Homo sapiens: one gene and its partners. The protein of the gene in region 1 interacts with the protein of each later gene in a biochemical or structural test. Each region holds a gene or a part of one and is shown on either strand. Other genes may lie near its edges.

Evidence for each region.
Region 2: the proteins of AGTR2 (region 1) and AGTRAP form a complex in vitro, tested with the Homo sapiens proteins (one study listed by BioGRID).
Region 3: the proteins of AGTR2 (region 1) and SNTA1 interact in a test that uses a peptide from one of them, tested with the Homo sapiens proteins (one study listed by BioGRID).
Region 4: the proteins of AGTR2 (region 1) and ZBTB16 form a complex in vitro, tested with the Homo sapiens proteins (one study listed by BioGRID).

What each region holds. Positions count from the first base shown.
Region 1 is NC_000023.11:116,166,569-116,173,758, reverse strand, and holds the start of AGTR2 (type-2 angiotensin II receptor), read right to left. Parts: upstream 3,016-7,190; 5' UTR 2,943-3,015; intron 2,792-2,942; 5' UTR 2,732-2,791; intron 1,514-2,731; 5' UTR 1,479-1,513; coding exon 387-1,478; 3' UTR 1-386. UniProt on the Homo sapiens protein: Receptor for angiotensin II, a vasoconstricting peptide. Signals primarily via a non-canonical G-protein- and beta-arrestin independent pathways. Cooperates with MTUS1 to inhibit ERK2 activation and cell proliferation.
Region 2 is NC_000001.11:11,731,338-11,739,157, forward strand, and holds the start of AGTRAP (type-1 angiotensin II receptor-associated protein), read left to right. Parts: upstream 1-4,798; 5' UTR 4,799-4,871; coding exon 4,872-4,898; intron 4,899-7,820. UniProt on the Homo sapiens protein: Appears to be a negative regulator of type-1 angiotensin II receptor-mediated signaling by regulating receptor internalization as well as mechanism of receptor desensitization such as phosphorylation.
Region 3 is NC_000020.11:33,433,760-33,440,781, forward strand, and holds part of SNTA1 (alpha-1-syntrophin), read right to left. Parts: intron 5,268-7,022; coding exon 5,082-5,267; intron 1-5,081. UniProt on the Homo sapiens protein: Adapter protein that binds to and probably organizes the subcellular localization of a variety of membrane proteins. May link various receptors to the actin cytoskeleton and the extracellular matrix via the dystrophin glycoprotein complex.
Region 4 is NC_000011.10:114,244,711-114,251,732, reverse strand, and holds part of ZBTB16 (zinc finger and BTB domain-containing protein 16), read right to left. Parts: intron 4,536-7,022; coding exon 4,368-4,535; intron 1,408-4,367; coding exon 1,178-1,407; 3' UTR 1-1,177. UniProt on the Homo sapiens protein: Acts as a transcriptional repressor. Transcriptional repression may be mediated through recruitment of histone deacetylases to target promoters. May play a role in myeloid maturation and in the development and/or maintenance of other differentiated tissues.

The DNA of each region.
Region 1 (7,190 bases):
AGTTGAAAGACTGGTTCTGGTTCAAGAGGAAATCCTGATAAAAATGGATATAAAACCCCACTAAGAAACACAAGCATGTTTCAAAGAGAAATCTGAATCCCCAAATCATTATTCACAATCTATTATTAATTACAATTTGAGATATATCACCAGTTACTTCTAGGTTGTAAATATGTCTCACTAATGACAATCTTGTACAAACATATCAGAAAAACAATGGGCAATTCCTGAAAGTCACTGGACGATAAAACATAGTTACATTTGGTTTCAGAAGATTCAGAAAAGATTAGGGGAAATTTTATTATTTTATTAAAACCACTTAAAAATAATTCTGGTGAGCCTCAAAGCAAGTAGCCATGTTGATTACATGCATTTTGCTCTCACGTTTAAGACACAAAGGTCTCCATTTCTCTAAGAGAACTGCTTTTCCGGCAAGACATACTCTCTCTTTTCCCTTGGAGCCAAGTAATTGGAACCCTAAACACACTGCGGAGCTTCTGTTGGAACCGGTTTCCAACAAAACAATACAGAAACGGATTAACGCAGCTGTTGGTGAATCCCAAGAGGATGGCAAAAGGAAGTGCCAGGTCAATGACTGCTATAACTTCGCAGCTATTAATGACACCCATCCAGGCCAGAGCATCCAGGAAGGTCAGAACATGGAAGGGAAGCCAGCAAATGATGAAGGCCAGAACAACAGCAGCTGCCATCTTCAGGACTTGGTCACGGGTTATCCTGTTCTTCCCATAGCTATTCGTCTTCAGTAAGTGTTTTCTAATTCCAAAATAGCATGTTGCTATGAATATTAAAGGGATAATAAAACCAAGGATATTTTTCATTAAGGCAATCCCAGCTGACCATTGGGCATATTTCTCAGGTGGGAAAGCCATAATGCAAGCATTCACTCCTAAGTATTCAATGGTTCTGACGTCTCGAAAATAAAATGTTGGCAATGAGGACAAACAGGCCATACACCAAACAAGGGGAACTATATAAGATGCTTGCCAGGGATTTCTTCTTTGAGACAGAAAGGGGTAGATGACAGATTGGTACCTATCAACACTCATGCAGGTGATAAAAAAAATGCTTGCAAACATGTTCAGGGTAAGAAAAGAACCAAAAACTTTGCACATCACAGGTCCAAAGAGCCAGTCATATCTATAAGAATAATAGGTTGCCCATAGAGGAAGAGTAGCCAAAAGGAGTAAATCAGCCACAGCGAGGTTGAAGATGTATATGCTAGAAACCTTTTTAGGACCCTTTTGACAACAAAACAGTGTAACCACGACAATATTGACCAGAAATCCAATTACAAATATAATGTAGTAAAGAATAGGAATTGCATCTAAATGCTTATCTGATGGTTTCTGTGAACAGTTCAAGGTAGACTCATTGTTGCCAGAGATGTTCACAAGCCCGAAGTGAAGACCGCTGGTAATGTTTTTGCTAGTAGTGGCAAGGGTGGAGTTGCCCTTCATATTGAAATGTCAGCAGCTCCTAGTTCTTATGCCTTCTGTGGAGAAAAAACATAGAACTCTTAGAACACATACAGAGCTGAGGACATCCTTGAATCATTAGCATTTTGAATGTTTGTCAAAAGCAAAAAAAAAGTGAGTGATTATAGAAAACATTAAGAAACAGAGCCATGGCTTGTAAAACAAGAATTCATTTTACCTCTTGAAAAAGGAGAAATAATTTTCCTGATAGTAGAAAAAAGACATTTCAGAGATTCAAAGTTCTGAATAAAACTACCTTTTGCCCATCTTTTCTATGATGTTTTTGAAAGATTTAAAGAAAATTAATATTTCAAAAGATTAGTCAGGGCAGGAAATGTGTGAAACAAATAAGAAACCCAGAGGTAAGAAAAGTTAATCTTTCAAAAAACACTTGAGCATATATCTCTGTTTGTATACTTTCTAGAAACCACACTGCTGCTTGCTATTGCATAGAGAAATGCTCTATTTAAGTAACTAATTACATACAAATCACTACAGCTGTGGAAAATATAAGTAACATAAGCAATGGAAAAAATAAGTATATAAAAAACTAAAAGAGAATATGCCAAAGGAACATATTGTGATGGGGAATCATGGTTTGTCTTTAATAATTAAAAATAATTCCTTTAGTTTTACTTTTCTATTGTTTTCACAATAATAATATAGTTAAGAAGAAGTTATGAAATATATTTATATTTCTAAGTCTTCTCCTTTTAATAGAGAATATTAGTTTTAGATATAGATATCTAATTTTGGTCTATTTAATATCTAAACAATCCATTTTCAATTAAATCAGATAAAGAAAAAAACAGCCAAACCTATGTTAGGTTCAAGTAGAAGTAGTTTAGATTGCTCAGTGAAATGAGAAATGAACATCAATGATTAATCATGATATAGTCTTATCATTTTTCTTTTTCTCTCTTTTCGGTTTAACCGAACTGAATAGCCGTTGCTCTCAAACGTTACAGTGTTGAGGTTTTTGTGATTTTTTTCACTAGAAGCATTATTTTAAAACCAAAAAAAAAAACACATTAGCTAAAGATAAGCATACAAAGGAAACACTATTTACTTTAGATAGTTTCAAAATACATGCAAATAAGCTACCCAATTAAAAGTGTAATATCTAAAGAACCTCCTAATAAAGAGCAAAACTTTTATTTTGCTCTAAAGATTTTTCTTTTGACCTAACAAATTAACATAAAAGAATCAATAATAAATTCCACTTGAAGACTTACTGGTTGTTGAAGTTTAAAGCAGTTATCATAAATCAGCTTGCTTAGTGCCTAAACACACTCCTGTAAGAGAAACAGCAGCTAAATAATTCAGGAGTTTTGCAAAATACAGTGTTAAAACACAGGAAAAACAGAAGTTCATCCATAAAAAATATTTTCATTTAATGTATGTTCTACTTTCCAAGTAAATTATATATAAATTGTTCATACTTACCTTCAAAATTCAGGCTGCAGAATGCTTTGAATTCTGTGCTTACTCGTTCTCTCAGACGCTGGGACGTAATAGCACCAGATCTCTGGTTTCCTTCTTATATGTTTGGTCTGTCCACTGGGAGCCTTCAACCTACATAATTCTAGGGCTGACTTATGAACCCTTGCCAGCTTTCCAGAGAGGTTTTTTTTTGTCTGCAAAACATTAATCTGAAATTCTCACTGTCTCCAATCATAACAGCTCATTCAAATAAATCTCAAACAAAAAAAATGAAGTTTCCACAAATGTGCTAGAGAATTTTGAAGTCAGTGGCTTACTTGGTAGGAGAAAAATATAGTAATTATTTACAGAATTTTCTCTTCCTTTTTTCCTGATATTGGCATTCTAATAGAAATTAGTGAGTAGAGACTAGGAAATTTATTATAGTAGCAAAGTCTTTGTTCATCAGCTTTCACAACCTTCATTACTTTCTGAAATTTTTACCCCTGTTTATTAAAGAATGGTAGGAATTTTACTTGAAGTCTACCACTTCTAAAATTTCTCCCTTGCTTTGCGCAGTTTTTGTTGGCTTGTTGCTGGAGGGTTGGAGATTGCAGGAATATAATTTTTACACGACCAAAAAGAGGTTTAGTCTCCTTTCATAGGTCTCTGTCATATTTGTGGTTTAAATACAAAGCACATAAAGTGAAGAGGGATTCGCTAGCTATTTCAACCTAGATCACTGTTGCTGCTGTCTCTTGTGGCAGTGGGGGCAATAAACTACACAACCAATCCAGCAGAAGCAAGAGTGACAAAATGAAGAAAGATAAGAACAGGTGATGGTAGTGATAATACTAGCTGACAATAAATGTTATGTGCCGAACACTGTGATGAGTTATTTATCATCAATAATTTAATAGAGAGGCAATATAGCACACTGGTTAGTAAATAGCCTCTGGGATCCAACTACCTGGCTTTACAAACCCAGCTCTACCACTTACTAATTCTGACCTTGGCCAAGTTACTTTACTTCTTCATGTCTCAGTTTCTCATCTGAGAAAGGAGAATGATATAAATTACCTACATCGTAGAGTAGGAATTTTAAATAAGCTAATGGAAAATTAAATGAGCTAATATGTTTAAAGTGCCTAAAATCATGCCTAGCATATGGTAGGTGCTATTACAAGCTATTCATATTAGCCCCCACTTTACAAATCAGGAAACTAGGACTCATAGAGTTTAATAACTTTTCTGAGATCATACAGCTATTAAATGAAGACACTTGCATTTAAATCAAAGGAAACTAATATCAGAACTCACGCTGTTTAGCCTCTATACCACAAGAGGAAGCACTAGATGGTCCCTTAGTCTCACTCTTTGTCTTGGCAAAAAGGAAACGTGGCATTTACAGAAAATCACTGATGACCATTCATAATCTATCATAAAAGCATCAAAGAAGGGGAAAAGAATTGGAAGAATTGTTATGTGGGGAAACGTATTTTTCTTAATTGTATTGCCCAAATGGAGACCACAGGAAGGAGAAACTTGTGACTAGATGGCTTTCTATAGTTAGTACAGAGAACCAGAGAACCTAGAGCACATTTTAAATGGGCAAAAAGATTCAAGTTATTTCTGTGGATCATATTTTTCAGATAAGCAGCAAGAATGCACCTGTCCATGCTGCAGGCCACAGGTAAAGAATGAGGGCAGGCTCTGAGGAAGTAGCTGGGCACCTAAGTATGGAGTTCAGCAGAACAAGGAAGGAGAAGTCAGTGTTGATGACAGAAGACAAAATTGCAAATGGCATGAGACAAATCACATGGCTTTTGATATCTGTCTGTTTCTCCATTAATATTAAAGTCAATACTGTAGCACACAGGCAGATGAGATCAGTGAGAAGTCATCGTTATGTGAAAAATACAGTAGGATTCAAAGGTTTGCATAGGCCATCATAAAGTTTGTTTGGTAAACAGTTTGAACATTGTCAAAATGCCCCTAATATATGTATGCACCATTTTACTAAATCTCAAAATATTTGTTTCCTATGCTCTGGACAGATTCAGTTGAGGCTGAGGCTCTGTTAAAATGATGGAAAACTTATGTTTCAGAAACAAATGAGGGGGCACATATGTTTATCAGCAGGAAAGCTGAGATGGAAACTGTTTTCACTCATTGTTTAAACCTGGTTTCTCCCTCCATTTCAAATGTTTGTTTTTGCCACATAAAGGGGAAGTTTCCAGGCCAGGGCCTCCCGAGTGGTCACAATGGGTCAGATTCTCACCCTGCTCTTTTTCTTGTACCCTCTTAGGCCCCTTGCAAAGAAACAGCCAGGAGGTGAGCTATAAAATTATGAGAACAAACTACAGGCTTGTCTCCGGAAGACCTAGCCTTGAACACCCACAAGGAACAGGGGACCTTGTCTAGAGCTTTTGTCCTTCATTACAGTAAGTTCTGACATAAATAAAGTTTAAAGAGGTACATATTTCCCAGAAGATTAAAGGGCCATTTACTCTGCGTCTTCATAATCTTAGGAGTAATTTTTTTCACAAGTCAAAGAAAAATTTTGTAACTGCAGAGAATTAACAAAAAGTTTATAAAAAGAATAGCAATAATATTGACACCACTTGAAGAAATACTGTATATTATTGATTCAGCAAAGAACTCCCAGTTAAGCCAACAATGTAAATACACTTGAGAGTCAAATAAGTGTCAGTCCTGGGAAGCAGTACAACACAAAAAGTTCATTCTCCTGGGAGTAGGGAATAATTTTTCTGCTGGTAGACTTACTTAAAAAGTTTCAGGCCATTTGAATAAATTATGCAGCTCTGCAGGACAAGTGTAGCTGAGCTAGCAGAATTAAATAGTAAATCACATTAAATTAATTTTTTTCTAATGAATACCTGTTGTTTATTGTGAGATTACTTAACAGTAAATTTTAAAGGACTAAGCTAAAAAAGTAAATGTTCTTGAGAGAAATTCTTCCTCTGCTAGAAGGTTACAGAGTTCAGAACAAATTTTATTTGCCGCCTCACCTCCACCCACACACACAGATGAAACTTCAAAGGAGAAAAGAAATACATAAATGCAAAAATGCGTAAAAATTCTAGACATAGTGCCCTGGTTATAGAGGTAAAGATTAGAGGTACAGATTACGGAATGATTTTAATATATATGGGTCTTCCTTTTTAATCTAGGTCTCTCAGAGTCATTTTAACTTTCCCCAACCCCAGCCACCACACTGAGTGCCAATATCATTGCCACTTCTCTCAACTTCAACACACACACACACACACACACACACACCATTCATACCCATGTACCCACGTACATACTTTATACCAACTTTTCTTTAATTCACTTACCCATAGAGTAGCCTTGCTTTAATTGTCACTGGACTTTTCCTAACCTGGGGGTCTCTAAAAGGAGGGTAGTTAAGAAGATTGCCCATTATTGATGAATCTTTGCATATTATTTTTGTGCCTGTCTGTGAAATGTCACAATTAAAGCAAATGGAAAAAAAAATAAGGTCTTTTATTCAGAAATAACAATCAGATTGGCCATTTTGTAGAAACCAGCTTAAAATTCAGTGAAATGCCCAACATGAGTGATTATTTTCATCAAACTACCTCTTTGTCTACGCATCACATGAAAAGTGACACAGAGGACTATTAAGTAAGTTAAGGTGAAACTGATGTAGTGAGATGAATGGATGTCAGACTCAGTACATTCTTGAGACCAGCTGCTTCCAGCTGAATCTGGTCCCAAGAACATAAGGAGAAGGGAGAGTTCTAATTTCCCTTTGCCCCAAAGACAGCTTCAGGCCTGAGCACCATGTTCAGACTAGAATCTTGCAAAAGGCACCCTAGTTCTATCCTCAAATGCTATATAACCCAACTGGTGGAAAAAAATTTTAAATGAAAATTATCTATATTTTTGTTTACATTCCAAATATCAGCTAAATGATTTGACATTTCTCCCACTGATATGACTAAATTAAATAGCTTGACTAAATTATCCAAAATTGCCAATTGACTAAATTGGCCAAACCAACAAGCTGTCTTGGAAATATTTAAACACCACTCTTAGGCGATGGGGATGTTTTGGGGGGATGTTTTGGGGAGATGTTGTCAGGTTAGAACTCTCATAGGGCAGTGGATCAACAAATTGTTAAGCTAGAGTTTGGTCCTTGAGCTTTAGGTCTAGATATTGAACTTTCTCAGAATACCCAGGCTCTCAGTGATGGCTCATGTCAATCAAATTATCTCAAAACTG
Region 2 (7,820 bases), on another chromosome or scaffold:
GAGTTGGAGGCTGCAGTGAGCCAAGGTTGCACCACTGTACTCCAGTCTGGGTGACAGAGCACCTAGAGGGCCCTGTCTCAAAAAAAGAAAATAAAATGCATTTAATACACCTAACCTACTGAACATCATAGCTTAGTCTAGCCTACTTTAAACATGCTCAGAACACTTACATTAGCCTACAGTTGTGCAAAATCATGAAAAACAAGCCTATTTCATAATAAAGTGCTGAAAACCCTATGGAATTTATTGAACACTATACTGCAAGTGAAAAACAGAACGGTTATACTGGGGACTGGAAATATGGTTTCTACTGAACGCAGATCGCTTTCGCACTGTTGGAAAGTAGACAAATCATGTCAGACCATTGTAAGTTGGGGAGTGTCTGTACTCACTCAATACATGACCCCAAGCCTTGTGGAATGCCACGTGGGGGTCTATTATGTCCTTCCATAGCCAAGAATAGGTCGTGGCAGGAACTCCGGTTCCTTTGAGGATACCGACAGTTTCACTTTCTTTTGTTTCTCCGTGCTTCCCACCTCCCCGCATCCCCCCAACCCCACCAGCCTGCCAAGCCCGCCCAGCCAGCTGGGTGTTCTCGTGCTCTCCTCCCTCCGCCTCTGGCCCCAGCTGGTGGAGATGAATACAGTGTCAGTGTCTGAGCCACAGGGACGTTCCACAGGCCCAGCCTTGTGCTGCCTTCCGATCCTTGTCTTCTCCTACTTGCTTCACTCTATCCTTCTCATTTCAGCCCTGGCCGGATTTTTCTGCTGTGTGGTTACACGTCAGGGTCCTGGAGCCAGGCTTCCTGGGTCCCACCGCAGTTCCAGCAGCAATTAGTGCTGTGCCTGCAGCAAGCGGCTTCACTTCTGTTGATTTCAGTTGCCTAAGTGTAAACAGGAATAAGAACAGCGCGTGCCATAGTTCTGTTGTGAGCATTTACTATGAAGAACTTTCTTTTTTTTTTTTTTTTTTTTTGAGACAGGGTCTCGCTCCGTCTCTCAGTCTCTCAGGCTAGAGTGCAATGGCAGGATCTCGGCTCACTGCAATCTCTACCTCCTGGGTTCAAGCGATTCTCATGCCTCAGCCTCCCGAGTAGCTGGGATTATAGGCATGTGCCATCATGCCCGGCTAATTTTTGTATTTTTAATAGAGACAGGGTTTCACCATGTTGGCCAGGCCGTTCTCGAACTCCTGACCTCGGGTGTTCCACCCGCCTTGGCCTCCCAAAGTGCTGGGATTATAGATGTGAGCCACCGTGCCTGGCCCACTATGAAGCCCTTTCACACTGTCTGCCACACGACAACTACTGTTGGGGCTCAGAAAATGTCACCCCAATATCTGGTGCTTTGGCATGCTAAGTACTATGAACTACAGAAGACTGGAGGCCTCAAAAGCAAGGTCTCTGTGACGCCCTCCTGACCTCCTGTCTCCAGCCCCTCCTTCTCCCGTGAGGCAGTCACAGAACAAGAATTCCTCCTTTGGCAGGGGATGAGGTGACTCAAGTCTGTAATCCCAGCACTTTGGGAGGCCGAGGCAGGTGGATCGCTTGAGCCCAGGAGTTTGAGACCGGCCTGGGCAACATGGCAAGCCCTGTCTCTATAAAAAAAAATACAAAAATTAGCCAGTCATGGTGGTAGGTGCTTCTAATCCCAGCTATTCAGGAGGCTGAAGTGGGAGGATCACCTGAGCCCAGGAGGTTGAGGCTGCAGTGAGCCATGATCACACCATTGCACTCCAGCCTGGGTAACAGAGCAAGACCTTGTCTCAAGAAAAAAAAAAAAAAAAATCCTCCTTCTCCAAGGTGGGTCACAGAAACTAGAACCCGTGTCTCCAAAGTAGCCATAAAACCTAGAAAGGTGGCTCTCTCCCTTCTCTCTTTAAAGACCTCATTACAGAGGGGTTCTACCTCATACCCAGGAGGAAGGAATGCTGCATGGAGAGCCCAAGAAGAATCTGGACAAGACTTGTTCATTTTCTTTTTATCCAATTGCATTGCTACAGGGCTGTTCATTCTTCCTTGAAACTAAGCACAAAAATGGACAGATTTCCCAGGGCCTTTGAGTCTTCATCTCTGAAGCCTCCCATGTCACATGAAGCTTTGCTTAACTAAACTTGGTATGCTTTTCTCTTGTTAAGCAGTCTTTTTTTACAGGAGTGTCAGCTGTGACCTTTATGATGGGTGAGGAAAGGTATCACACCCTTCCGCCCCTACAGGGTCCTGTAAATGTCAGTTTAGTAAATGTCAGCTCTAATCCTAGGAGTTGTTTTGCGGTTTTTTTGTTTTTTTTTTGACATGGAATCTCACTCTGTTGCCCAGGCTAGAGTGCAGTGGCAGGATCTCGGCTCACTCCAACCTCCACCTCCCAGGTTCAAGCAATTCTCCTGCCTCAGCCTCCCAAGTAGCTGGGACCACAGGTGCACACCCCCATGCCTGGCTAATTTTTGTATTTTTAGTAGAGACGGGGTTTCATCATGTTGGCCAAAATGATCTCGAACTCCTGACCTCAAGTGATCCACCGGCCTCAGCCTCCCAAAGTGTTAGGATTACAGGCTTGAGCCACCGTGCCCGGCCTGTTTTTCATTTTCTCCTTACAAAGTGATCACAACTTTATTATATACCTAAAGGCTTGGATTAAATCCCTCTAGAATCTGGAGTGTATGGGAAATATTTTTTAGAAGGAAATTGATCAGGCTGCGCACTGTGGCTCACGCCTGAAATCCCAGCACTTTGGGAGGCCGAGGCGGGCAGATCACCTGAGGTCAGGAGTTTGAGACCAGCCTGGCCAACGTGGCAAAACCCTATCGCTACTAAAAATACAAAAATCAGCCGGGCATGTTGGCACCCACCTGTAGTCTCAGCCACTCAGGAGGCTGAGGCAGGAGAATCACTTAAACCCGGGAGACGGAGGTTGCAGTGAGCTGAGATCGCGCCACTGCACTCCAGCCTGGGTGACAGAGCCAGACTCCATCTCAAAAAAAAAAAAGATAATAATAACATAATATTCTAATATTGACTGCTTACTGAGAAATTACTCTCTTCTAAGTACTTTACTAATAACAATAATTAATTACCAATAATGAACTAATAATAATAATAGCAACCAGTCCTAAATCAAACTGGATGTAGCCATTTGGCTGGTCTCTAATTTACCCCTAGACTGGGGGGATCTGTGCCTCCTAAGAGGGCATTAAGTTAGGCCTATGGGCCCTGCAGCCCTGCAAAACTCTCCTCATCCATCCAGAGAAACCCTTTCTTTGCATCTGGAGAGACTATGGGTCTTGGTATTATCTAAGGACTCACCCAGGCAGTTTTGTAGGTTCCCACCTGGTTTCCCCCACCCTAGGAATAAGACCAAGTGCTCAGGTGTACCCTGAAGGTTTCCATACCTAGGTGACACTAAACAAAAGCTGGTGTTCTCTAAAGGAAAGTTGATGTTAGGAAGGGACCTGGAGGTAGAGCGGATTAATGTTCTTGTTGCGGTGGGGGGATGTGGTGGTCAACAATCTTTAAGGGAGGTGCCAGGTGAGGCAGGAGACAGCCCTTTCTTTCCTCATGTACAATTGGGGGAGGAATTTCTTATGGTTTTTCAGCTAGAGTTTTCTAAAACTTTTGGTATGCTGATTAAAGTGGGCTCCCACCAATTTGGCTCCTCAGGTGTTGCTTTTTGTTTGTTTGTTTTTCCCAGACAAGGTCTCACCCTGTCGTCCAGGCTGGAGTGTAGTGGCGTGATCTCGGCTCACTGCAGCCTCCCCGGTTCAAGCAATTCTCGTGCCTCAGCCTCCTGAGTAGCTGGGACTGCAGGTGCACACCACCATGCCCTGCTAATTTTGGTATTTTTAGTAGAGACGGGGTTTCACCATGTTGGCCAGGCTGGTCTCGAACTACTGAGTTCAGGTGATCCACCCTCCTTGGCCTCCCAAAGTGCTGGGATAACAGGGGTGAGCCACTGCGCCCAGCCTCATCTTGTGTTGGTAATAACAATAGCTTGTGTGTCCTGCCCATTTACTAAGTGCCGGGCACTGTTCTCTCCTAGAACAAACCGTAGTTAGACTCCTCTGAGTCCTCATCTTGACTAGGCCTCGGCCTTGGACCTCTGTGTCTTCCTGTCCTTGCTGGGCCTGAGCCTGCATAATAAACCAGTTTCAGCAAGAGTCCTGCTAAGTTAGCAAGAACTCCCCCATCCTTGATGTCTCCTCCTAGGAATCTTCCATTCCTGCTCCCTCATTCTGCTCTGGCTATAAATCCCTCCTTGGTCCTTGTTGTATTCGGTGTTGAGCCCAAACTCTCACTCCATGGCAATAACCCTACAGCAAGTCTTGAACAGTACTGGTTTAACAACAGTCCCAATAACGTTTTCTTTAACAACAGCAGTTAGCTCATTTAATCCTCATAAGGATCATATGAGGTAGGTAGCCTAAATAGCCCATTTACACAGGGAAGTGGGAAGGAGAGAGGGTGCCCCCAAGGATGAGACACAAGCTGTTGCCACATCAGCACTTTGCGCCTGGACGGTCCCCCAGTTGTCCTGGCTGCAGGCAGTCCGAACAGTCCGCTTCCTGGAATATTAGCCAGGCAGGATACGCCCTGGGCGACAGAAACTCCAACTTTCGCCAGCGGCCCCCAAGTACTGCCTGGGCGGTGGCGGGAGTCTGGAGCTTGGCTGAAGGCGCGAGCTGCCGACGCCGTCTCCTAGCAACCAAGCGGCGGTCACGTGACCCGCTCCAGCCCGTTTCACGTGGTCTTGAGCTGCGCTGGGGTTGGAGTGGCCGCAACGGGCGGGGCGGGGCGGGGCCGGGCAAGTTTGTTCCCCGAGTTCGGAGCCTAGGAGCCCCCCGCGGCTGCGGCGCAGGTGCCCTCGGCCTGAGTCGGGATGGAGCTGCCTGCTGTGAACCTGAAGGTGGCGACGGGCTGGGGGGAGGGTCCCCTTTGCGGGAGGAAGTGGGACATTTGCATTTTCCCGGAAGGTGGGAGGAAGGACCGGAGTTTTGGGGAAAGAGGGATGGTAGGGAGGAAGGGAAGGTACAGACCCCACGCAAGAAGGAGATGGGCAGGCAGGCCACAGCAGGGAGAGTGATCCAGGCACAGGCCAGCAGGGCGACACTGAGGGGCCGTGGGAGGTGGCAGCGGAGGGCAAGGGCCGCCCCCTCCCGGACTCAGACCCTCCCAGCGGGCAGCGCCGGTCCCAGCATTGCTGTTGCCTGCACGCCCAGAATTCCCCTGGAGGAGGAGGAAGGTGCGCGGGAGGGGCTTGTAGGCGGCTCACCTCCCCCGCGCGGGGTCAGGGACTGGGCTTGCCCCCCGGGTCCCAGCACCGTTTCAGGAGCCTCCTTGTTTGCTAAGTCGGGTTAAGGAAATCAGATGTTCCCAAGCAGTTGGTTTTATAAAGTTTACACATCCAGCGCCCTTATTTCATAATCAAGAAGCGCGAACTCCAACAGAAATTACTTAAAAGCAGAAAACCCCAACTTTGTGCACTGGGGAAAACACTGCAGGGCTTCCTGTGGTGTCTTCATTTCCCGAGCCGTGAGCTCAGTCCGGGTCTGGGTGCCAGCGGCTGTTCTTTTTCTCCCCGCCCAGCCCCGCCGCCCACGTGTCTGGGCTCCATTTGCATTAGAGGGGCTAGGGGCTGTAGTTTTGGTCAGGAAGGTGTGGACCTTGGACCAAACCGGCCATTTTGGGTCTTAGTGCAGCCTCCTTTGAGGCAATATCCAGGAATGTCCTCTTACTCATGAATGACAGAGCATTTAGCTCCCTGTTGGTGTCTGGGACTAAAGGAACCTGAGAAATAGATGGTTACAAAACAATGGCTTAATACACTTTATTATTACACAACATCTGTGCTATGACTTGCTATAGGCATGTTTCCCTTCTTAATCATACTTGCTTCAGCAAACCTTCCTGAAGCTTCCAGTCAAAGGTGGTGGGGAGACATGGCTGGAGCAAGGGAATGGGCTTGGATGGAACGTTCAGCTGGGAAGAAATTTACGTGACAGCAGCCGAGGCTTGTTGGTATCAATATGCACTCTATTCCAGGCAATGTGGGGTTAACACCAACTGCCTTTTCTCTGATGAGGGATTTGCTTAAAATAATTGCTGACAGAGGATCAGGTGAGGGCAGTGGGAGGGACAGAGCTCTAATTTATGGGCTTCTGTGGTGTGCCAGGTTATTTAATCAAGGCAGCCTTATGAGAAAGCTGATATGGTCATCTTTTTACAGATGAGCAAACTTCAGCTTAGACTGGGTAAATTGCCAAGGTCCCACGGGGAGTAAGTGGCAATATCAGGATTTGAACCCATAGGGATCAGACTCCAGGGCCAGGTCCTTTCTGGGGTACCAGCTTAGGGCTGACTTTAACGTTGGCTGTTTCTGTCCTTTGGGAGGGCTTAGTCTCTTTGGGGCTTTTTTTGAGCAACTTTTTGGGCCTGACAGGCTAAGAGCATCCACAGGTATGAGCTATGCTGGCTTTCGGTACCCAGGATGAAAAGGCTGGTCCTCCCCTTGACTTGGCAAACGAGACCCCAGTCTCCAAGGGTGTTAGCCGCTACCAGTCAGAGACAACAAAGTGCTGGAAGGCCCTGAGGGGTCAGGGTTGTCAGGTCGTGTACAGGAGATCCAGGTGAATTTGAATTTCAGATCAACAACGAACAGTTTTTTAGTATGAGTAAGTCTCAGGCAATATGTGGGACATATTAACAAATTATTCATGATCTGATATTGGAAATTAACTGGGTGTTCTGTATTTTTGTTTGCTGGATCTGGCCACCCTGTGGAGGGCAGCTGTTGACTCCTTGCTTATAGGCACTTAGGGGATGTTCTGAGTTCAGAGCCCTTCAGGAGGTGGGGAACTGCTCCCTGTGGCCTGCACTCCCTCCCCACTCCCTCGTTTTGTATATTCCTTGGGCAAGGGCTGAGTGCCTGCTTCTGCCCAGCTCAGCCAGAGTGGGCAGTGGTGCCAGGTGAGAAGAAACAACTGCCCCAGGCCCTTTGCACAAAGGGCAGCTCCTGACCAAGCCCTGTCCATGTCTCTTGAAGCCAGGTCCTGAGCTGCAAGAATGACATTGTGATGAGCTTAGAAAGGACTGGACTAGGGTACAGAGGTCTTGTGGGAAGAAGACCTTGGGAGGAGGATCTGGTGGTCTAGGAGGTAGTCGTGTAGCATTTGGGTTAAAAACTCAGTAATGAGGACTGCTGGGATGGAGGGCTGAATTCCTCACAGGCACTGTGTGGAGCGCTTCCCACACCTCTCCACCTCCCTGTACCACTGGATCCACACAACAACACTGAATCAGGCAGTATTGCCCTTCTTTGCAGAAGAGCCAACAGCTGTTCTGAGAGGTCAGGTGACTTGCCTAAGGTCACTAGGTTCTAAAGTCATGGAGCCAGGATCAGATCCACCTGTTTGCCTCCAGTACCCACGAAGTTAACCGCTGCACAACTCTGCCTCCCATCCTTGGCAGCCCTGACTGGTGTCCCTGGGCCCCGGCCACCCTGGGGGATCTCACTAGCACGTGTAACAGGCCACCAAGTGTTTGCACAGGACTGGTAGGAGTTTATTCCATTTCTGGGAAGTCCTACCCCGCCATGGGTCCTCTAGTGGCAAACAAAGGGTTTAAGTCTTGGTCTGCATGCCCTGCTGGTTTCTCTTCAGCCTTTCCTTCTCCAGGTTAGACTTCCTCATTTCCATCTGCCCTCTACGGCTCTTCGAGATCCTGACGGTGTAGCACAGTGGACAGAGCACAGGCTTTGGGGGCAGGCAGGTCTGCATTCAAGGTCTTGAGTAGGTTTCTGTGTGACCTTGAGTAGGTTTCTGAACTCTCT
Region 3 (7,022 bases), on another chromosome or scaffold:
TTGTTGGCTGCCAACTTGGGCCCAGACTGTGGTCACAAACACACCCCTCTGGCTGAGAACAGGATCAGGACATTTCTGCAAACCCCTGACCTAGTAGAAGAAATGTTCTAGGAGGCAGGTTGGGGTTGCTGAGGCTCAGCTGAGCCCCCAACTTAGGCCAGGGAAGTAAGGCTCTAGCTGACACCTGGAGTTTGCTGGTAATGCTTGTTCTCCCAGGACATCCTCAGGGGATTCACTATCCACTGAGCTGGAAAAATATCCAGTTGCCTTGCCAAGTTCACATCCAAAGGACAGGCCATCCTTCCATGGCCCCTTGGAGGCGTCCTCAGTAATGGGATGTGAGTGGGGAAATGTTGAACAATGTGGTCAGTGATTCAACTCCGGGGAAACCTAGGCCCAGAGAGGGTCCCAGGAACCCTGGCTGCTCCAGACTGGTGCAACTGCCAGGCCCAGACCTTCTCCACTCCCCAAAGTCTCAAGGACCAGCCACAGCCCAGCATCCTCCTATCCTTCAGACCTCTCTGATCACTCTTGCCATTCAGAGATTCCTGACTCCAGTGCCTTCCACCACTCCTCCTCCCCTCTTTGTGCTATCTTGAGTGGAATGACCTCCTTCCATGAGATCTTGGGCCAGGAGAATAGGTCGAAAAAGACTTCAACTAAGGAAAAGTGGGGAAAAACATGAAGGCCACATTCTTCTTTCTCTTACCCAGGCCATAGGCAGGGTTCACCAAGGAATGATCTCGTCCTGTGAAACATCTCAGAGAATATAAGAGCAGGGGCCCCTCAGTCCTGGGATGATACACATGTTACTTCTCTACTGCATCTGTAGTAGACATTGCTAATCAATTCCAGCTCCTTTCTGCTGAGCCCAGACAAAGCCTCCCAATCCTTCCAAATATGGAACTCACAGAACCACCAGTGGAGCTGACGCTTACACTCTTTTTTTTTTTTTTCCTACAGAGATGAAATCTCACTGTGTTGCCCAAGCTGGTCTCGAACTCCTGGGCTCAAGTGATCTGCCCACCTAAGCCTCCCAAAGTGTTGGGATTACAGGCGTAAGCCACCACGCCTGCCTGGAGCTGCCACTCTAAATAAAAGCTATTGATCACCTCTGATCTAGCCTAACTTCAATAGGAAAACTGAGTCCCCTAGAAGGCAAGGGTCTTACCCAAGGCCAAACAGAGATTTATTGCAGAGCAGACAGGATTTCAGGCACCAGCTTTTTTTTTTTTTTTTTTTTTTTTTTTGAGATGGATTCTTGCTCTTGTCGCCCAGGCTGGAGTGCAGCGGCACAATCACGGCTCACTGCAACCTCCGCCTCCCGTGTTCAAGATTTTCCTACCTCAGCCTCCTGAGTAGCTGGGATTACAGGCACGCGCCACCATGGCTCAGCTAATTTTTGTATTTTTAGTAGAGACGGGGTTTCGCCATGTTGGCCAGGCTGGTCTCAAACTCCTGGCCTCAGGTGATCCACCCGCCTCAGCCTCCCAAAGTGCTGGGATTACAGGCGTGAGTCACAGCACCTAGCCACCGGCTTTTAAAGAGTTTCTGTAGGCCAGGCATGGTGGCTCACGTCTGTAATCCCAGCACTTTGGGAGGCCCAGGCAGGCAGATCACTGAGGCCGGGAGTTCGAGACCAGCCTGGCCAACATGGCAAAACCCTGTCTCTACTAAAAATACAAAAATTAACCAGGCCGTGGTGGTGCACACCTGTAATTCCAGCTACAGAACTGAGGCAGAGAATCGCTTGAACCTGGGAGAAGGAGGTTGCAGTAAGCTGAGATCGCACTACTGCACTCCAGCCTGGGCAACAGAGTGAGACCCTGCCTCAAGAAAAAAACACAGTTTGTGTAGAGGAGATAGTGTTTATGTTTTGTCTACCCTACCACATGGTGAGCTCCTTCAGGAGAGGCCCTGGGTGTAGTTTAGCTTCTGACCTTAATATACACAGCAGGCACACAGTAGATGTCCATGAATGTCTCTTGGCTTAGTGAGGAGGAATGCATGACATGAGTTAGAGGGAAGGCTTGAGTATTCACTCCTAAAGTCAGAAGATGCTTCAAGGTCACACATTTACAGATACTACCTTCTCAAAACGACATACATGGGAACCCAGATAGATACATTTTTAATCTAAAGATGAGGAGGTGGGCCGGGCGCGGTGGCTCACGCGTGTAATCCCAGCACTTTGGGAGGCCGGGGCGGGCAGATCACAAGGTCAGGAGATCGAGACCATCCTGGCTAACACGGTGAAACCACATCTCTACTAATAATACAAAAAATTAGCCAGGCGTGGTGGCGGGCACCTGTAGTCCCAGCTACTTGGGAGGCTGAGCAGGAGAATGGCGTGAACCCGGGAGGCGGAGCTTGCAGTGAGCCGAGATCCCGCCACTGCACTCCAACCTGGGTGACAGAGCAAGACTCTGTCTCAAAAATATAAATAAATAAAAATAAAAAATAAAGATGAGGAGGTGAGGGGACCTCCGTGTGAATGTGGATTTGAATTGTGTCTATAGCAGAAATTTTACCATAGACTAAACTTTCAAACAACAGAAGCTAAAAGAGCTTTCAAGTCAACTAAAATATGACATTTCGATGAATGTCAGTGGTTTCAAACCGCATTGCTGACTATAAATATCAAAGTAATGAGGCATGTGGGGAAAGTCTCTTATATCCATATCATTTATGTGGCATTCTATTATTTAACTTTGCCATTAAAATATGATTGATACACTTAAGCTTCTAAGGATCAACACTCTAGAGTCAGCTTTTTTTAAGTATCAAAAAAATGCATCTAGACTGGGCACTGTGGCCTGCAATCCCAGCACTTTGGGAGACTTAGGTGGGAGGATCCCTTAAGCCCAGGAGTTGGAGACCAGCCCAGGCAACATGGTGAAACCCTGTCTCTACAAAAAATTGGCTAGGTGTGGTGGCTCACGCCTGTAATCCCAGCACTTTGGGAGGCCGAGGCAGGCAGATCACGAGGTCAGGAGTTCGAGACCAGCCTGGCCAATATGGTGAAACCCTGTCTCTACTAAAAATACAAAAAAAAAATTAGCCAGGCGTGGTAGTGCGCACCTGTAGTCCCAGCTACTCGGAAGGCTAAGGCAGAAGAATCGCTTGAACCTGGAAGGCGGAGGATGCAGTGAGCCAAGATCGCGCCACTGCTCCAGCCTGGGCGACAGAGTAAGACTCCATCTCAAAAAAAAAAAAAAAAAAAAGCTAGGCGCAGGGGCTCACACCTGTAATCCCAGCACTTTTGGAGGCTGAGGCAGGTGGATCACAAGCTCAGGAGTTTGAGACCAGCCTGGCCAATATGGTGAAACCTCATCTCTACTAAAAATAAAAAAATTAGCCGGGCATGGTGGTGGGTGCCTGTAATCCCAGCTACTCAGGAGGCGGAGGCAGAAGAATTGCTTGAACCCGGGAGACGGAGGTTGCAGTGAGCCGAGATCATGCCACTGCACTCCAGCCTGGGCAACAGAGTGAGACTCCATCTCAGAAAAAAAAAAAAATTAACCAGGTGTGGTGGCATGCATCTGTAGTCCCAGCCACTCAGGAGGTTGAGGTGGGAGGATTGTTTGAGCCCCGGGGGGTGGAGGGTGCATTGAGCCAAGATCATACTACTGTACTCCAGCCTGGGTGATAGAGCAAGACCCTGTCTCGAAAAAAAAAAAAAACAAGAAAAAAAAATGCATCCATGGCATTTAAATAGATATACCTAAAATATAAAATAAAACTTTACATTTTATTTTCTTTATTTAAATTTTATTTTATTTTATATCTGGGTCAACCAAGGACCGAGAACCTATTTGCTTCTGTGGCCTCTTGGACACTCCTTTAGGGAAACCAAGGCAACCCACCAGGATTTGGGCCTGGGACTCAACTCAGCAGCTTCTCTGGCCGTGTTATTCTCCATCAGCCCCCGCCACCTCCCTGTGCCTGTTCTGGGCCATAAGCCAGAGACACATTCCTCAGGCCCCCACGGGGCTTCCAGAGCTGACAGAGTTTGAGGAAAGGGCTGAGCAAAGCAGAAACCTCTTGAGAGACATGGCACAAGATGGTCATGGGACAACCTCAGCAGGAGGCGTGTAACAACTGATGGGGAAACCGAGGCCCACAGAGGGCAAGGGTCCCACCCAAGACCACACTGTGAGGGAACAGTGGAGAAAGCCATTCAACCAAGGTTCCTCCACAAAACTCCTCTCTGATCCTGGCTGGAAGGATTTGATGTCCTACTCTATAAAAGCCAAGGCCTCTGGGCGTGGTGGCTCATGCCTGTAATCTCAGCACTTTGGGAGACTGAGGTGGGTGGATCACCTAAGGCCAGGAGTTCAAGACTAGCCTGGCCAACATGGCAAAACCCTGTCTCTACAAAAATATAAAAATTAGCTGGGCATGGTGACGCACACCTGTAATCCCAGCTACTTGGGAGGCTGAGGCAGGAGGATCACTTGAACCCAGGAGGCAGAGGTTGCGATGAACCAAGATCATGCCACTGTATTCCAGCCTGGACAACAGAGCAAGATTCCATCTCAAAAAAAAAATAAAGTAAAATAAAAGCCAAGGCTTCTCCCAAAGGAGGATGGGTCTTGGGGTTTTAAGGCCCAGGCACTAAAAGAACCTGAAGTCAAGAGCTCTCCAGGCCCCACAGGAAAGAATCTGACCTGCCCCTTCCCCAGTCCGCACCCCTCTCTCCCTGTGTCACTCAGGTGCTGGCACACTCTGCCATGTACATTTTTGCCCTAGTCGCAACAACCCAGAAAGGCAGGAGCTACATCCCTGTTTTACAAATGAGGAAACTAAGGATCAGGGAAATGAAGTGACTTGTCCAGGGCTACACAGCTAGTGACTGGAAGACAGAAAATGCAAATCAGGTCTGCTTGGCTCTATGCCAACTCTCCCTCCACCACCCCACACTGTCTTCAGGCAGGTCCCCAAATTCTGTTTCTGTTTTCAGTCCTGCCCACCTCCCAGCCCCCAGTGCTGGGATGGGGCCTTCTGAGGCCTGGGGGAGGTAGAGAAGCAGTGGAACACCTCCACCCAGCCCCTCTGAACCCTGGAACGTCAGTGCTTACCCTCCAGCACCACCTCCTTGCCTGTCTTCTTGAGGACCTGCACCGCCTCATCATGGGTAGCAGAGGACAAGTCTTCCCCATTCACAGACAGGATGGCATCCCCCACAAAAAGGGCCTCTGTCTGGTCAGCTGCCAATCCCTTGAAGATCTTGGAAATGAGAATAGGCATCTTGTTCTCCCGGCCGCCTGCACAGGTACAGAAGGAGGACAAGACTTAGGCAGATACTCCAACACTTGGGAGTCACATCAAGACACAATTATTTCTGAAGGCTTCCCTTGGTGCCTAGCCCAGTGCTGGAAAAGGCAATGGGAGAATAAAGGGAATCTGAGAAAAATCTTGGAAGTTTGGGACACTAGTAACACTAATAATAAATCATTTTTGATTAGGTCCGGTGGCTCATGCCTGTAATCCCAGCACCTTAGAAGGCTGAGGTGGGCAGGTCACCTGAGGTCAGGAGTTCAGGATCAGCCTGGGCAACATGGGAAAACCCCGCCTCTACTAAAAATACAAAAATTAGCCAGGCACCTGTGGTCTCAGCTACTAGGGAAGCTGAAGTAGGAGGATCACTTGAGCCCAGGAGGTCGAGGCTGCAGTGAGCTGAGATTGTGCCACTGCACTCCAGCTTGGGTGGCAGAAGGAGACCCTGTCTCAATAAATTAATTAATTAAATAAATCATTTTCAAAATTCATAATGCTATAGTTTGATCCCTGGATCTTTTGATTAAGTGCTTTGGGTGTTCACCAGTGTTTGTGCAACTTACAAAGTGCTTCAATCACTTTTTCTTAAATGTTTTCGATTTTCTCATGTAACCCATAAATATATATGCCTACTATGTACGCACAAAAATTAAAAATGAAAATAACCGGACAAAGTGGCTCACACCTGTAATCCCAACACTTTGGGAGGCCAAGGTGGTCGGATCACTTGAGACCAGTAGTTTGAGACCAGCCTGGCCAACATAGCGAAATCCTGCCTCTACTAAAAACACAAAAAAGGGCCAGGTGCGGTGGCTTATGCCTGTAATCCCAGCACTTTGGGAGGCCAAGGCTGCCAGGTGGATCACCTAAGGTCAGGAGTTCGAGACCAGCCTGGCCAACATAGTGAAACCCTGTCCCTACCAAAAATACAAAAAATTAACTGGGCGTGGTAGCGGATGCCTGTAATCCCAGCTACTCGGGAGGCTGAGGCAGGAGAATCACTTGGACCCAGGAGGCGGAGGTTGCAGTGAGCTGAGATCACGCCATTGCTCTCTAGCCTGGGCAACAAAAGTGAAACTCTGCTCAAAAAAGTAAATAAATACATAATAAAAAAATAAACAAATAAAAAAATATGGCTGGGCGTGGTGGCTCACGCCTGTAATCCCAGCACTTTGGGAGGCCAAGATGGGCAGATCACCTGAGGTTAGGGGTTCAAGACCAGCCTGGCCAACATGGCAAAACCCCATCTCTTCTAAAAGTACAAACATTAGCCGGGCATGGGGGCGCATGCCTGTAATCCCAGTTACTCGGGAGGCTGAGTCAGGAGAATTGCTTGAACCGGGAGGCTGAGGTTGCAATGAGCCAAGATTGCACCATTGCACTCCAGCCTGGGCAATAAGAGCGAAACTCCATCTCAAAAAATAAATAAATAAATAAATAAATACAAACACAAAAAATTAGCTGGGCCTGGTGGCACATGCCTGTAGTCCCAGCTACTCAGGAGGCTGAGGCAGCAGAATTGCTTGAACCCAGGAGGTGGAGGTTGCAGTGAGCCAAGATCACACCACTGCACTCCAGCATGGGCGACAGAACAAGACTCCATCTCAAAATAAAACAAAAATACAAAAATTAGCCAGGCATGGCGGTGTGTGCCTATAATTCCAGCTACTCAGGAGGCTGAGGCACGAGAACTGCTTGAACCCAGGAGGTGGAGATTGCAGTGAGCCGAGATCGCACCACTG
Region 4 (7,022 bases), on another chromosome or scaffold:
CCGAGGGGCGCTGTGAGTCAGGAATTCTGTGCGACTCTCTCTGGACCTGGCTTTTCTTGCTGAGCTCACTACATCTGGGGTCCCCAGTGTGACTCAACAACTTTCTCCCTTGCCCAGCTTCCCTCATCCCACGGGCTGGGTGTCCTCTTTTCCAGGTGTGGGACCCCTCTAGAGAAAGACATCCACAACCTACCCTCGGAACCTCAGCCCATTCATGGATTCCTTCTCCTGGGACTGAAGTAGGGCTACGTAGGGACTGTGGTTTGTTTGGTAGGATATTAGGTATTTAGTTGTGATGCTTTTCCATTTTGGAAGCAGCGCAGCAGGAATCTTGCTCACGATGGTGCTGGACTAGGGTGGGGTATTGGATTTGTTTTGTGTTCTCAGAAGGCTGAGGGTAGGAGGGACCCTGAAGTCAGAGGCAGCTATCCCACTAGGGAACCGGAGAAGGATGGAGACACCGCCAGGTCCCTGAGGGGCTGGGACTCCCCTGGGACTTGGAGGACAGGAGTCAAGGGGAGGCTGGGAACAAAGAGCTGGAGGAGGGGCAGGGGTCCTGAGGCTCTCAGAGACCACCGGGGGACACCCAGATGTGGCAAAGCAGAGGAAAGCAGCAGGTGGGCTGAGTGGTGGGAAGAGAAACAGAGCCCTTCTCCTCCCCAGTCAGCCGCCAGCAAACTAGAGCTGCCATTTTGAGCAGCTAGTGACCCAGCCCAGACCCATCAGCAGGGGAGCGCCCTTCTGGCTCACCTCCTCCCTCCCTTCATCTCCTGGGGGTCTTGGTGGAGGAAGGCCGGCACAGACCGTGTGGCTCTGACCAGAGGACCTCTCACCTGCTTTCTAGCCTCCATTTCTGGACACATAAAAGAAGGTCTGGGTGAAGGAAGGAGAAAAATGTGCCACCATTTGAGTGAACAAAATACCCAACCCCATCCCAGAAAATCAGGCAAACCTCCAGCCGGGAGAGGAGGGTGGAGGCCCCCAGAGGAGGGGCAGTGGCTTGGCATCCAGGTCATCTGGAGCCCAGAGAGAATCCAAGGCCAAAAAGCTACCAGGTTTCCTTTTCCTTCTGTTTTTTTTTTTCTTTTCCTTTTTTATTTGTCATAGTCCTTCCTTCATCTCACTCCAACTCTTCTTTCCTGGCTCCCCGCTCGGCTCCACCGCCGCGGGCCTCCCTTCACACATAGCACAGGTAGAGGTACGTCTTCTCTATCCTCCAGTCGGGCGGGATCTCCTCGGGCTTGTGGCCCTTCATGTGCTTCTGCATGGAGGAGAGGCTGGGGCAGTACTCTGTGCAGATGGTGCACTGGTAGGGCGAGGCGCCGTTGTGCGTTCTCAGGTGCTTGATCATGGCCGAGTAGTCCCGGGAGCGCTGGTGGCAGAGCTTACACTCAAAGGGCTTCTCACCTGAGGGCGGAGGGACAGGGCAGGAGAAAGTGAGGACAGACAGAAGGCGGTGAGGGCACCATGTCACCCTCAGGCGTGCCAGGGAAGCTGGGTTCCTCCAGCTGGGCTTGCTCCAACAGAACTTTCTGGGACAATGAAGGCACCACCCAAGACGGCAGCCACCAGTCACACATGGCTATGAATGAGGCTGGTGCGACTGCAGCTCTACAGTTTTCTAATTTTATTTCATTGTAACTAATTTAAATAGCTACATGTAGCTAGTTGACTACTGGATTGCCCAGCTCCTTGTCTTACTATTCTTAACTCTCCCAAGGCCACAGTCTTTTCCCTTTCTAATTAAGAAAATGGGTGTCTAGAAAGAGAAAGGCCCCAAAGTCCTCAGGAATGGCTCTTCAAGCCACAGTTCCGTCCAGAGAGCAGGTGGATCGAGACCTTTCAGGGCTACAGATGGTGGGGAGCAGGGGTGGGGGGAAATTGAGGGAACCCAGTCCTTCAAATATGCTGCACCTGGGGACACCTATCCTGCTAAAGCTCTCTTTTTTTTTTTTTTTTTTGAGACGGAGTCTCGCTGTGTCGCCCAGGCCAGACTGCGGACTGCAGTGGCGCAATCTCGGCTCACTGCAAGCTCCGCTTCCCGGGTTCACGCCATTCTCCTGCCTCAGCCTCCCGAGTAGCTGGGACTACAGGCGCCTGCCACCGCGCCCGGCTAATTTTTTGTATTTTTAGTAGAGACGGGGTTTCACCTTGTTAGCCAGGATGGTCTCGATCTCCTGACCTCAAGATCCACCCGCCTCGGCCTCCCAAAGTGCTGGGATTACAGGCGTGAGCCACCGCGCCCGGCCTTTTTTTTTTTTTTTTTTTTTTTTTTGAGATGGAGTCTCACTCTGTTACCCAGGCTGGAATGCAGTGGTGCAATCTCAGCTCACTGCAACCTCTGCCTCCCGGGTTCAAGTGATTGTCCTGCCTCAGCCTCCCAAGTAGCTGGGATCACAGGTGCCGCCACCATGCCCGGCTAATTTTTGTATTTTTAGTACAGACAGGGTTTCACCATGTTGGCCGGGCTGGACTTGAACTCCTGACTTCAAGTGATCTGCCTGCCTCGGCCTCCCAAAGTCCTGGGATTATAGGCATGAGCTCCCCCACCCGGCCTATCCTGCTAAAACCGCTAAGACCTTGCCCTGGACCCTGCCTCCCTCCTGAGGCTGGAATTGGGGGTGGGGTGGGATGGGAGGGATAAAGAACCTGGGAGTGCACAGCCACACCCTAGCGTTCTATACCCCAACTTTCCTTCCATAGAGTCCCCTAGAGCTGAGCAGAGGATGTAAGGGAACCTTGTTTCAATACAGTAATTAACTGGCCAGCCATCTCGCTATCAATACTCCCCCGCGCACAGGCCCCAGCAAATAATGAAGTAATGAACAGCCAAAGTGATCTAACTATCGACCAGCTATTTACAATAGTCACTGCCAATACAGTTAATGATCCACCTGCCAGGTCACATCCCTGACAAGGGGCTAAGGAAACCCCAGGGCTCTGGGAAATCCTCTGGGCCACTATAGTTGTCATCAACGGACACCCAACCCTCTCCTTGTGGGCTCAAACTGGGACACGAAAAACGAGCTCTGACAACACATAGCTCTGCTTACTGCTCCTTCTGTCCACCCTTCCCCTCCAAGGGCAACGTACTCTCCTCTAAGCCAGCAGGACCTGCCTGAAGCCACCTCTCCCCCTTCCTCTGGACAGGACAGCTGTCTCCCCTGATCAGAGGGGGCGTCTTTGTTTTCCAGCTTCCACCACCTCTCACCCTTCTGTAAATCAACCTTCCCCACAACCAGCAGTGTGCTGGTGGTAAATGTTTCATGACTGGCTTTCCAAAAAGCCCTGGTTTGTAGCATCTGCTGATTGCTATGATGTGAATACTCCTACAGTGGCCAATTTTAAGCAACTAAGGTGGTGTCACTGAACTTGAAGTTGTGAAGAAATGTGAAAAATTAGCTTTCACAAGCAAGCTCCAGGACTTCACTGCCCCCAACTTGGGAAACTGTGGAAGACCCTTCACTTGTTTTGTCTTTTGACCTCAGGGAAAACAGTGGCCCACATTTCTTTTTCCAATACAAAAAATAATGTGGATGGGCACGGTGGCTCACGCCTGTAATCCCAGCACTTTGGAGGCCGAGGCGGGTGAATCACTTGAGGTCAGGAGTTCGAGACCAGCCTGACCAACATGGCAAAACCCTGTCTCTACTAAAAAAAATACAAAATTAGCTGGGCGTGGTGGCACACACCTGTAATCCCAGGTAATTGGGAGGCTGAGGCAGGAGAATCGCTTGAACCCAGGAGGCAGAGATTGCAGTGAACTGAGATCGTGCCACTGCACTCCGGCCTGGCCAATAAGAGCGAAACTCCGTCTAAAAAAAAAAAATGTGAAGGCACTCTGAAGTGGTAAAACATCATATGCATATAGGGATTATTAAATATATCTGCTCTTCTAATCTCAGAACCAAACACAATCTAACTTTACAACTTCCCAACCTTCATAACAACCTAATTCAATGTATCCTAATTCTTACTCTAACCCTTGAGTAACATGAAATTACCCTAACCTTCACTTTCAGCTAATTGGACCAACTTACCCCTAATTCAGGACTCATATACAGACATCATTTTGCATGTCACCTCTGAACTACTGGTATAGCTGCCTGGAGGGCTGATGGGGGCTCACTGGAAAGTGTGCTGGGATTGATTAGTAATGTCTGCCTTGGCCTTGACTGATGGCCCTCAGGCCACCTTGACTGGGGTGTGGTGGTCCTCAGGCCACCATACCAGCTCTTAATAGAACCTCTTCTACTCTTTGATTCAGCCTGGGATCATCCTCACTTAGGCTTCTCTAGGAGACTATCTGCTTCCCACCTCCGCCCAGGTCCCAGAGCCAGCTCAGGCCCCTCCCTGGCCTTCGGTACCTGTGTGCACCCTATAGTGCGTCTCCAGCTGATGCTTGAGGCTGAACTTCTTGCCACAGCCATTGCACTCGTAGGGTTTCTCACCCGTGTGGATGCGTTTGTGGCTCTTGAGTGTGCTCTCATCCCGGAAGCAGCTGCCACAGAACTCACACTCGTAGGGGTGGTCGCCTGTGGAGACAAGGGGCTGGATCAGGCCTTTGCCTCTCCCTGCCCCCTCTTCAGGGGACAGTAGGGCACATTCTGTGCATGAGAAGGATGCGACGGCCTGTATTCACCACCTCCAAAGACAACTTAAGGATCCACGGCCACACCTCCATTGAATAAACAAGCAATACCTGTCTTCACACATGACCATACTTTACTGTGGCCCCATGATCATCTGTGGGGCAAGGGCCAGTCCTGGGAAAGAGAGCCCATTTGGTTCAGGGATGGACAGCAGTCCCCAGAAAGCAAGCCCCCTTGTGGATACATGAGACCTCACCATCTTGCTTCTCAGATGACCTCTTCTCCCCTTCCTTTAGGTTAAGGGTGAAAGTCACTCCAGCCTGACTCCCCAACCTTCAAAGAAATCTCTCCAATTTGAGGAACTTCACATTGTCCCCCAAACACCTTCTACAGTCCCCAATTTCCTTCCTCCACAGTCTTACATAGCTGTTTCCTCTGCTCGATTTCTTCTTTTCTCCCTGGTGAACTCCTAATCATCCTTCAAAGCCCAGCTCATATGATACCCCCGCGTGGACGCTTCCCTTTAGTTCCCCAGGCAGAATGAATCACACTTTCTTCTGTGTCCCCAAAGAGAAGAAATGCCCAGAATTTTGTTCTGTTATTAGTGTGGTATCATTTTTATGCCACTTTCGCATTAAAATGGGCTACATTTCCTGAGCACTCAGATGTGTGATGTGATCGCATCAGATGATCATGGCAACAAACTTAAAGAAAGATATTAGTCTCATTTTACAGTTGAGAAAAAAATGAGATGCTTCCACATCATCCCTAAGGTGAAACGGCAAGTAAGGAGCTGAGTTGGGATTCAGGTTTGGGTCTGGCTCTAGAGTCAGGGTACCATATACTTGTCAGCTTGCTGACACACTATGCTGTATCTACTGGCTTGCCCACCATACCTCCAGCATGGAAGCACCACCAGGATAAGAAGCAAGCCTCACCCATCCTTGTAGCCTCAGTGTATCGCACAGGGAGGATCCAGAACAGACCCAGGAAATGGTGGGTCTATGAAACTTGGAGAGAACTGCCTTTTCTTTTTTGAGGATCCCACTCTTAAATCTCCAGAGCATGAGAGGTTGGGGTGTGGAGAATAACCATCTTGCCTTTCATATCCAAAGTGGGGGGCTTGGGGGATGAAAGGTGAGGACTCCAGCTACTTATTTATTACAGGAGTGAAGGCGCAGACAATAAAGATAGATTGATCACCCCAGACTTTGTTCATGAATATTTAAATATCGCTGATTCGTCTTGTCACTGTAATTACAATTTCTCTGGGCTGCATCTCCAACAACCACAGTTTATGGTAAAGAATGGCCCACTGTATTTCACTTGTCCCTCTGCAGATGTGCGGGGCTGCCAACCGTGTAATGTCCTCTGCATTTCATACATTTTCTTCAGCTGCTGAAGGTTTAAGTCATCCACAATGACCTACGTTTTTGCATTATCCCCATGTCAAACTGCGCTCGTGCCTGGGCATAAATTGTCCTTCTCGTTATAGACTCGCATGCCTGTGCCTTCACTTCCTTTTTAAAATGATATTTTACTCTCTCCTGTCTCTCCCCTCCTCGGGCCACTAACCAAAGCTCCCCCCTCCCAAAGTTAGGCCCCTGTACCCACATAAATTCTCATCTGTTCTGATGGCTCTGAGGGGTTTTTAGGGCTCTGAGGGGAGCGGATGCTGGGGTCTGATCAGTGACTTTCTCATGGGTGGAAGATTTGCAAGAAGCACCCATGCCATGAGAGGGGCACTTCCATCAGGGAATCAGATGAGAGAAGCTCAAAGAGTGGCATCGTGCCTTGACACCAGTTCACCCCAATCTATGGGGTGTTGCACTGGCTCAGAGGCTCGGCCAGCGAGTCCCTCACCTGCAGATCTGGGGATGGGCCAAGGCCCAGGGTTCTCAGTTGGGGAAATTGCTACCTGCCCATCCTCACTGCCAGAGCCATGCGGACTGCCTGGCCCCCAGCCCCATCAAACTCAAGGGAGTGGAGGCCTGTGCAGACCCTGGTACTAATTAGTTGTGTGTCTAACACAGTAAGGGCCAGTCTGTGTGTGCACCCGAACCCACTCTCTCCGTGTGTCTGCACTCACAGCCCTGTCTGGTCTGACATCCAACTCCCCCTCCTTACTGAATCGGCAACGATTACGACTTTAATCAAAGATTCAGTATCCTCATTAAGGTATAAATAAATAAATAAAGCCAAGGCCACGTGAGACTTCAGCTGGAGCCGGTAATTAAAACGTACATCGGCAGCCACCCAGCCGGGTGGGGGTGAAGGCGGCGGTGGGGGGGAAGGGGGCGGCTGCCTGTGCCTTTCCCCTCCAGAGGGGTCCCTAACAATTTAAAAAACAAAGGGTTAAGACAGAGGAGTTTGTTTGATCCGATTTTTAGGAATTTAATTATGAAGTGGAGCACATGTTAAATGAGTTTA